Linked DNA regions of Homo sapiens. The protein of the gene in region 2 purifies or fractionates together with the protein of the main gene of each other region. This does not show direct contact. Each region holds a gene or a part of one and is shown on either strand. Other genes may lie near its edges. The genes, in order: TNIK and BEND3.

Region 1 (3,913 bases), on a different chromosome or scaffold from region 2:
AAGAGTTTAGTTTTCAGTCTGTAGACTAAGGAGACAGAGAAGGCCTTGAATAAAAACAACCAGATTGAAACTGTGCGTTTGGAAGACTCACGTGGCTACAGTGTACGAGAAACCAGTCAGAAGAAGGCTGGTGGTAGAGACACAGGAGGAGGGGAGGTCCTGTTGCGGGTGTTGCCCAGGGGACAGTAACTACAGCACTTGCAGGGAACAGTGGAGACAAGGGGACCCATATGATAAACATTAAGGGAAGAATTTTAAGTTGGGGTGATATAAAATGTGTTTTGAGAAACTGAGGGCACCCCCATGAGACAACCAGGACATGTAAAAAAGAGTGGATAGAATCATGTTTCTCTAAAGGGAAATAAGCTTCCAACCAGACTGGAAGGAATCACAAGCGGAATTCATCCAACATTTTCTACTTAAGTCCTCCCTCTCTCTCCACTAGAGACCTTATATTTATATGTGCAGAATAACATTTCATTCAAAAAATATCATTAAGATTTTCTTAGAATTCTCAGCACACTGCTAACAAACCAGTTTAGGCCCTGTTCTCAGAGAGCTACTTCCCCCACAGAAATGTAAGAATCAATTTGACATTAAAGCATCTTTCAGACTCAAGTTACTCCAGATTCTATCAGGAAGGGAATCAGAGACTGGTTGTGCTCAGCTGGGCATGGCGGCCATGATTCAATCACAGGAGCGCCTGGCTGGGTGGACTTTAGAACCACTATCACTGAGAGAAGGAATGGCGTCGAAACAAGAAGGGCACGGAAGATTAATTCCAGGGCAGAGACACAGAAAGAAGAAAGGCCGAACGGGCAAGACTCGAAATTATAAGATATCAAAGAGTTTTACAGATAAGGGGGAAAAAAGGAATATTTCCTGAAAGAAATGTACTGGGTACTCTCTCATCAACAAAATATTACATGACCTCCTAAGTAGATAATTATGCAAACAGCAAACCATGACTTACACTGGCTTTTGTACTAAAGATTACTCCAGTTAATAATGAATAATGAAAATGATTATGCATATTTCTCTGATGTTCTGATAAATACCAGCACACCCTACTTTTTATGAGGCAATGCCATTGTAAAGAAAACACCTGTTTAGTATCTCTGAAAAATAAAAAGAATATCTAATGAAAAAATTGCCATGCTGTTATCATTTTGAGATACTGTTATCAACTCATGCAACTTTACTAAAATCTCATTTTAGACCAAATTTAATTAAGTGCTCTGGAGTAATGAACTAATAATGTTTCGAGATTTCTTTGAGCCCCATGAGACCTCTCACCAGAAAGTTTTAAATACTGGGCCATTAGTGTATCATTTTATGTGTCCACTCTATCTCCCAAGGGAAAAGATAAAACTTTAGGAAGGCACAGTCATGATCAATGTGTTTGTATTTGAATAATCGGTAATACATAAAGAGAGAAAACTTTTTTTAAAAAAGAAGGTTTTAATGAACAATGCTGATAGTTGATACTAGTTTAGAAATATGTTAATCTCCAAAAAACTTCAGGGCTGCACTTACCTCATATGTAATGAATGCTTAATACTGGGGGCGCAAAGCTCAATTCAGGCCATCAAAGAAACATACAAGGTCACATTGGTACACAAAAGGAAAAAGGCAGCTAAGGTCTGTGGAGGTACTGTTAAAAAGAGTCGGAACCTTCTGATATCTTTTTCTGAAGATTATTTTCCTTCTTTTCTTAGTCTTCTTTTTTTTTTCTTAAACAAGATGTCACTCTGTCACTGAGGCTGGAGTGCCGTGACACAATCACAGCCTCGACTTCTCAGGCTCAAACTATCTTCCCACCTCAGTCTCCCAATTAGCTGGGACCACAGGCACACACCACCACACTGACTTTTTTTTTTTTTTTTTAGAGATGGAGTCTCCCTACATTGCCCATGATGATCTGAAACTCCTGGTTTCAAGCAGTCCTCCCACTTCGGCCTCCCGAAGTGCTGGGATTACAGGTGTGAGCCACTGTGCCCAGGAAAGATAATTTTCTATTAGATAAAATCATTGCAATCAAATGTTGATGGTATCAATTTTCCCACTAAATTCTACTTAACCATGGGATAGCATATTTGTACAGTGCTGTATGGTTTTTAAAGCATTGCCTTAAATACTTTATTGATTTTGAAACCAGTATGTGAGAAAGGCAAACAGTTGTGATGATTCTTATTAACTATGGTTAAATGTCCTACCCAAAGTCACAGAGTGAATAAGAGGTGGACATAGAACTGGGGAGACAGGGTTCATTCCACTCCATTCATTCAAGCATTCATTCACGTACTCATTCATCCAACTAATGGAGACTATGGCTCCAAAGATGAACAAGATCTAGCCTCTGCCCTCAAGAAGTCCACGGTTTAGTAAAGAAGCAGAAAGGAAATCACACACCAAGTAAAACATGAGCATGAAAAGTGTAGCAAAGGGATGTATGCAAGGCTTTCAGATGAGGTCAATTCTTAAATCTGGGTTTCAATGGAGAAAGGAATGGCTAGGGAATGAGGGCTAAGGGGAAAGACAAGTGTAGATCATCTAATTTTGTTCAAATACAAAAGTGTATGTGAGTCCTGGCAGAAGCTGAGAGTATGAGGTCAGCAGCAGCCAACTCCTGGCCTTGAATGCCTTACCCTGTGGGCCAAGTTAAGGACAGCCAAGGTGCTTAGGTCCAGAAATATGCTAATCTCCAAAAAGCTTTCTGGGCTGAGCTCGCCTCATATGTAATAAAGCACACTGGTGGCAACTTTCATCTCTTTTAATACTGAGATGTCTTGAAGCAAGAATGACTCAAGCCCCAGGTTTGAATGAGTAAATTGTTTGCTGTAGCCTATGTATGTATACACACATTTTCATACACCCACGTGGATACGGTTTATATCCATAATACTACACATAATATATGTATCCACATAGATAATACAAAACATACACACAACTCTATAAACCTCACATGCAGAGCCATCTGAATAACATGTATGTTTATACTGACCCCTTGAGACATGCTCTGATGGACACAGGTTACTCAGAGAGGTTACCTGTGCAGGACAACCATGTGTCCTAGGTGATTTCAGACAGTCGTTTGCCTGCAGAGTAGGCATTGAACCAGGGCTGGACAAGATGAATTCCAAAGGTGGCCTAGAGCTCCATGGTTTCATGTATCACAAGCTTACTTGCATGAAGTAGTTTCGCCATTCTCAATAAATAAAATTCCCTGACCCTGGTGAAATTATTCCTTTCTGCTATTCTTTTGTACTCAGGCAGAAAATGTATTATTGATTTCTGATTCCACCACAGAAAGTGTGACTTAGAGAAAAGAGCACTGAATGAGGAGTCAGGAAATCTAGATTATTTCCTCAAACCACGCTCCTCGCTGTCCCCTCCCCTTGTTACTGTGTGACCTTGAACAACTTACTTCACGCCTCTGGGCTTCAGTTTCCCAAGTGTTCAATGAAAGGAGTGGCTGAGTGTTCTACAATTCTCTTTCCAGCTCTGAATCTATAAAACAATTCCAGCCCATCCCTCAAGATTTAGTTTATCTCTGAGCTCTAAAAATCAGGGCTAAAACTGGATTCAAAGTACCTATTTTCTAACCAAAGAAGATCCTGCTTCACTCACTTTTAAACCATGCAAATCTTGCATAATTTAAATGATCAGTGCTGTCATTGGTTGCTCTGGTTTAAATTATGCATTGTTGCTATTTGGGGAAAATTTAGACTGGGTCCGGTCTGGAATCACTGGCTGAGAACAATAAGCCCCCAAAGTGAGAAGGATAAAGGCCTCTCTAGACAGGATCTGCTTTTAATGCTTTGAGCCCAGGGTTTACAAAAAGAGCATTGACTGTGTACATTAAAGAGCCACCGAAACAGCGAGGGACTGGTAAGTCTGCAGCAAATTC
Region 2 (3,913 bases):
ACTCATGTTCCATGACAGGAGGTTGATGTGACAGATTTCAAGGGCCACACAGACACCAGCTAACCCAGCAGCAGCAACTGGCGCTCTGGCTCCATCTTTCCTCTAGAATCCAAGAGGCTCTCTCCATTCATTTAGGAAATACGCACTGAACGCCTACTAAGTTATGAGACACCGGGTTAGAGGCTGGGGATGTGAAACTGTGAGGGAGATAAAAAATCTTGCCCAAGTCCCAGTACCGAGGAAAGCTTGACAGGCTCTTGTATGGTAGTATAAAGCCAATATCTAGGGATGAATGGTTTAAAAAAAAAAGAGAGAAAAACGGACTGCAAGGGTGGAAGTGGGGAGCGGGTAACAAGAGAAAGTCCTCCATCCCAGCCGTTTATATACCTGGCTACCTGAAGGACTCAGTTCCTTACCTCAGTTTCCTGCAACCGTAGCTTTCTGGCACTATGCCACGCTGCCCTGTGGCATGTTTACTATTTGTATTCAACCATTCAAAAGTTACTTTAAGGAGATGAACTGCACATTTCCAACTCTAGTGAGTAACCTTGTTCCTCCCGGCACTCTTGTCGAGTTAGCGTTTACGTGCAGAATTCTTCCAGAAAGACCACCTGAGCAATCAATAAAACTTTTATCTCTGTAAAAACACCTTGTTTAAAATAGCTACATAGGGAGACGTAGGTAAACAAGCACACAAGGGCCTCCAAATCGGTGGTGCACAGCTCACGGATGAGGCAAGGGCAAAGCATGCGTGGGAAATCACGTTTATCATAGAGAAGGAAAGGAGCGCTCACGAGGAGCGGCGAGCGCCCCAGGCTTCAGCTTTGCGGCCGGCCGGCCAGGCCTCGCGCCAGCCCGGGTGCACACCCAAGGCGCCGGGCCCGCCTCCAGCTCCTGGGCAGCGGGAACCGCGAACCGCCGTGGAACGGCCGGGAAGGGAGCGCTGCGCCCCCTGGCGGCGGGGCCCATCCCTCTCCGCTCCCGGCCGCCGCCGCCGCGGGCCGGCCTCGCTCCATTTGCAGCCTCCGGAGGCTTCGTTCCTCCGAGCGGCTGCTCCCCCGGCCTCCCGCTCGCCGCCCGGCATCTCCCTCCAGTCCCCGCCCCCTGCTCCCGCTCCGACACCCCCTTCCACACGCCGAGCAGTGCCCCGCCAAAGCCCCGCCGAGCGCGAGCGCCAAGCCGCCGCGAGTACGGCAGAGCCTTCCGGCCGCCCCGGCCGCTCCATCGCGGCGCCCGGCGGGGGTGCGGGGCCGGCGCGCGGCGCGAGTGGGGCGGGCGGCGGCGGCGGCGCGGACGGTTCCACCGCGCGAACCCCCCGCCCCCGCGCGGCGCGCGTGCTCCCCAGAACGCCATGGAGCCGCCGCGTTCCGAGCGGGCACAAAGGGGCGCGCAGCACAATGGGCGCGGCGAGCCCGTGGGCGCCCGGCGCCCGCTCCGGTCGCTCGGCCCGCGCGGGGGTGGGCGCTACTACCGGCGGGCGCGCTCGGAGCAGCCCCCCTCCGCGTCCCCTCCCCTGCTCCCGCCCCCACCCCGGCATGGATGTTGCAGCCACTCTACCGGCCGCTCGCCCCGGAGCCGCCAACGCTGCCGCCGCCGCGCGGCCGGCTTGATCCGCCCCGCACTTACCTGGGACGCGAGTTCTGTACTTTGCCGGGCGGGCCCGCGCCGAGTTTGGGCGCCACGTGGGGGGGAGGGCGCGGGGCCGGGGAGTGGGGGCCGCGCGCGGAGGGCCTGGCCAGGGCGGCCCGGGGAGGCGCTGGGGGCGGCGGGCGGGCGAGCGCCGTGTATTTTCCCCTCTCTTTGTGTGTGTCCGTGCGCTGCGCTCTCGCGTGACGTGACGGGACTCCGTGTGTCATTTCCGCACAAGGACACAGGAGCCCCCGCTGCAGTGGAACCACAACCCCTCCGCCCCCACCCCCGGCCCGCCCCTCCCCCTCAGCGGGGCACACGCGGGACCGGCGGCGGCGGCGCTCGGGCGTGAACGGCCGCGGCGGGGAGCTCGGGCGCGCACTCCCGGGACCCAGGCGGCCCGGCGCGCTCGGCCAGCGCAGTGGCTCCACGTGGGCCCGCGCTGGCTGCCCGGGGCGGGGGCGGCGGCCGCGCACCCACGGCGCGCCGGGCAGGCGCCGCGAACAATGTCCCCTGTACCCCATGTGTCCTCCCACCGCGAGTTCGTCCTCGGAAACGTGGTTTCTCAGACCCGAGAGTTTGGCCCCAAACGGCTTTTTCTACTTTTTTGCCCCTTGCGGGACGGCGACTGTGCGGAGCTTGTCCCGCCTCGCGCCCACGCCTCTCCCGCATTTTTGGCCTTTGGGCCGCAGCCCAGGCCCCCGGGGCCGGTCTTCCCGCGCCGCCACCGGCACAAAGACCTTGGGGCGCGAGGGCCCGGGTGGCTCCTGCGGCCCCGCGGGGCGGCATGGAGTCCGGCGGGACCCGGGAGAGCGACCCTGGCGCTGGGAAAAGCTGGCTCTGGCCACTCCCCCTGCACGGTGGCCGCCCTCTGTTGTGAGCCTCAGAGCTAAAATCTGCTCTTGCAACCCGAAGTTCTGGGGTGTGAGGCTGCGGAGCGAGAGCTTCGGAAGCGCCCGCGCTCACAGACACACACCCCACAAACACAAACCCACGGGCTGTCTGCGCCGAGCGCCTAAAATAGAAAAACACGAGTCACCAACTCAATAAAGGCTGATTCTGTCTACTCCTAACTCTTGGACTGTAGATTCCCAGTTGATAAATACGAAATCTACCCCTCGGGTATTTTCTCAAGTCTCAGTGGCTGGGTAGGGGGAGGGGGAGGTGCTGGGTGAGAGTCAGGGAAGCCCAATTCAACAGTTTAGCCACGTTTGTATTTTAGGCAAACAATGAGAATGTAAATTTAAGAAAAATCCTTTAATTTGCCGATCAAAGAAAGTATAAAAAGAAAAATGCAAATGATCCCATCTGCTGCTCACAGCTGACTGGCTGCAAGGGAGGACCATGTGGCACGGCCCTGCGCGGTCAGTGAATAGGTAGAATAGATTTTTAAAAGAAGGCATATGTTGGCTCCTTGCTGCCCAGTCGCGGCGAGGGTTTGAATTAACGTATAGTTTGGGTTTACCGTACCCTCCTTCAGACCACTCCAATTGGGAATTTAGTAATTATGCAAGTTCCCCCCCTTCGGGCTTGAAATCAAAAGGCACAGGGTTAAGTTTGAGGAACTACGTGGAACATTCTCGAGCTGTATTTGGATTACTGGTTTAGTGAAGTCAGTACTAATTGCTATGCAAAATTAAGCAAGCAGCCTGAAGAACCAAGCCCTGCATCCAGGGGGTGCTTTTATAGAAGAATCTATACGTGCTCAGTGTCATTGAAAACAGGATGATGAAAAGAATGGGGCCGAGATAGCAGCCCTTCAAATTCAAAAGACTTAGGTCGCCCTATCTACATTTAAAATAGGGCGGAGGGAGGAAGGGAGGAGGACTGCTTGGGGGAGAATGGTTAATTTATACATTCGCAGAAGACTGAGGGGAGGCACTTCGATTTCTGCAGAGAACTTGACTTTTACACTTGCACATTAAATAACACGTACGACACAGTACATCGCTTGACTTAGTTAACAGATACACCAGTTTTATTCTCACCTTCAATTTAATGTGACAGTTATAATTAGAATTTTTAAAGTAGAAGTTGCATTTCATTAGTTCAGTTTTCTAGGATTTCCCAGTAGAAGAGTTAGGAATAGTTAAGTAGCACTTAAGCACATTTTGCATTTAAATCACTTTGCTGTGGTGCTTTAAGAATGTAAAACGACCTTGTTAAATTTTTGGAAAGAGGACTAGATGAAACGTGTGTAGTGAGGGGATATATATTTAACCAATCTTTCACAGTGACAACTCAGGTTTTTAAGGAGAAATTAAATAATAAGACAATAGAGATA

What was found.
Region 1: the proteins of BEND3 (region 2) and TNIK purify together in Homo sapiens (affinity purification with mass spectrometry; 2 studies listed by BioGRID and IntAct, with this or other methods). This does not show direct contact.

What each region holds. Positions count from the first base shown.
Region 1 is NC_000003.12:171,453,537-171,457,449, forward strand, and holds part of TNIK (TRAF2 and NCK-interacting protein kinase), read right to left. Parts: intron 1-3,913. UniProt on the Homo sapiens protein: Serine/threonine kinase that acts as an essential activator of the Wnt signaling pathway. Recruited to promoters of Wnt target genes and required to activate their expression. May act by phosphorylating TCF4/TCF7L2.
Region 2 is NC_000006.12:107,113,464-107,117,376, forward strand, and holds the start of BEND3 (BEN domain-containing protein 3), read right to left. Parts: upstream 2,053-3,913; 5' UTR 1,627-2,052; intron 970-1,626; exon of another isoform or gene 417-969; intron 1-416. UniProt on the Homo sapiens protein: Transcriptional repressor which associates with the NoRC (nucleolar remodeling complex) complex and plays a key role in repressing rDNA transcription.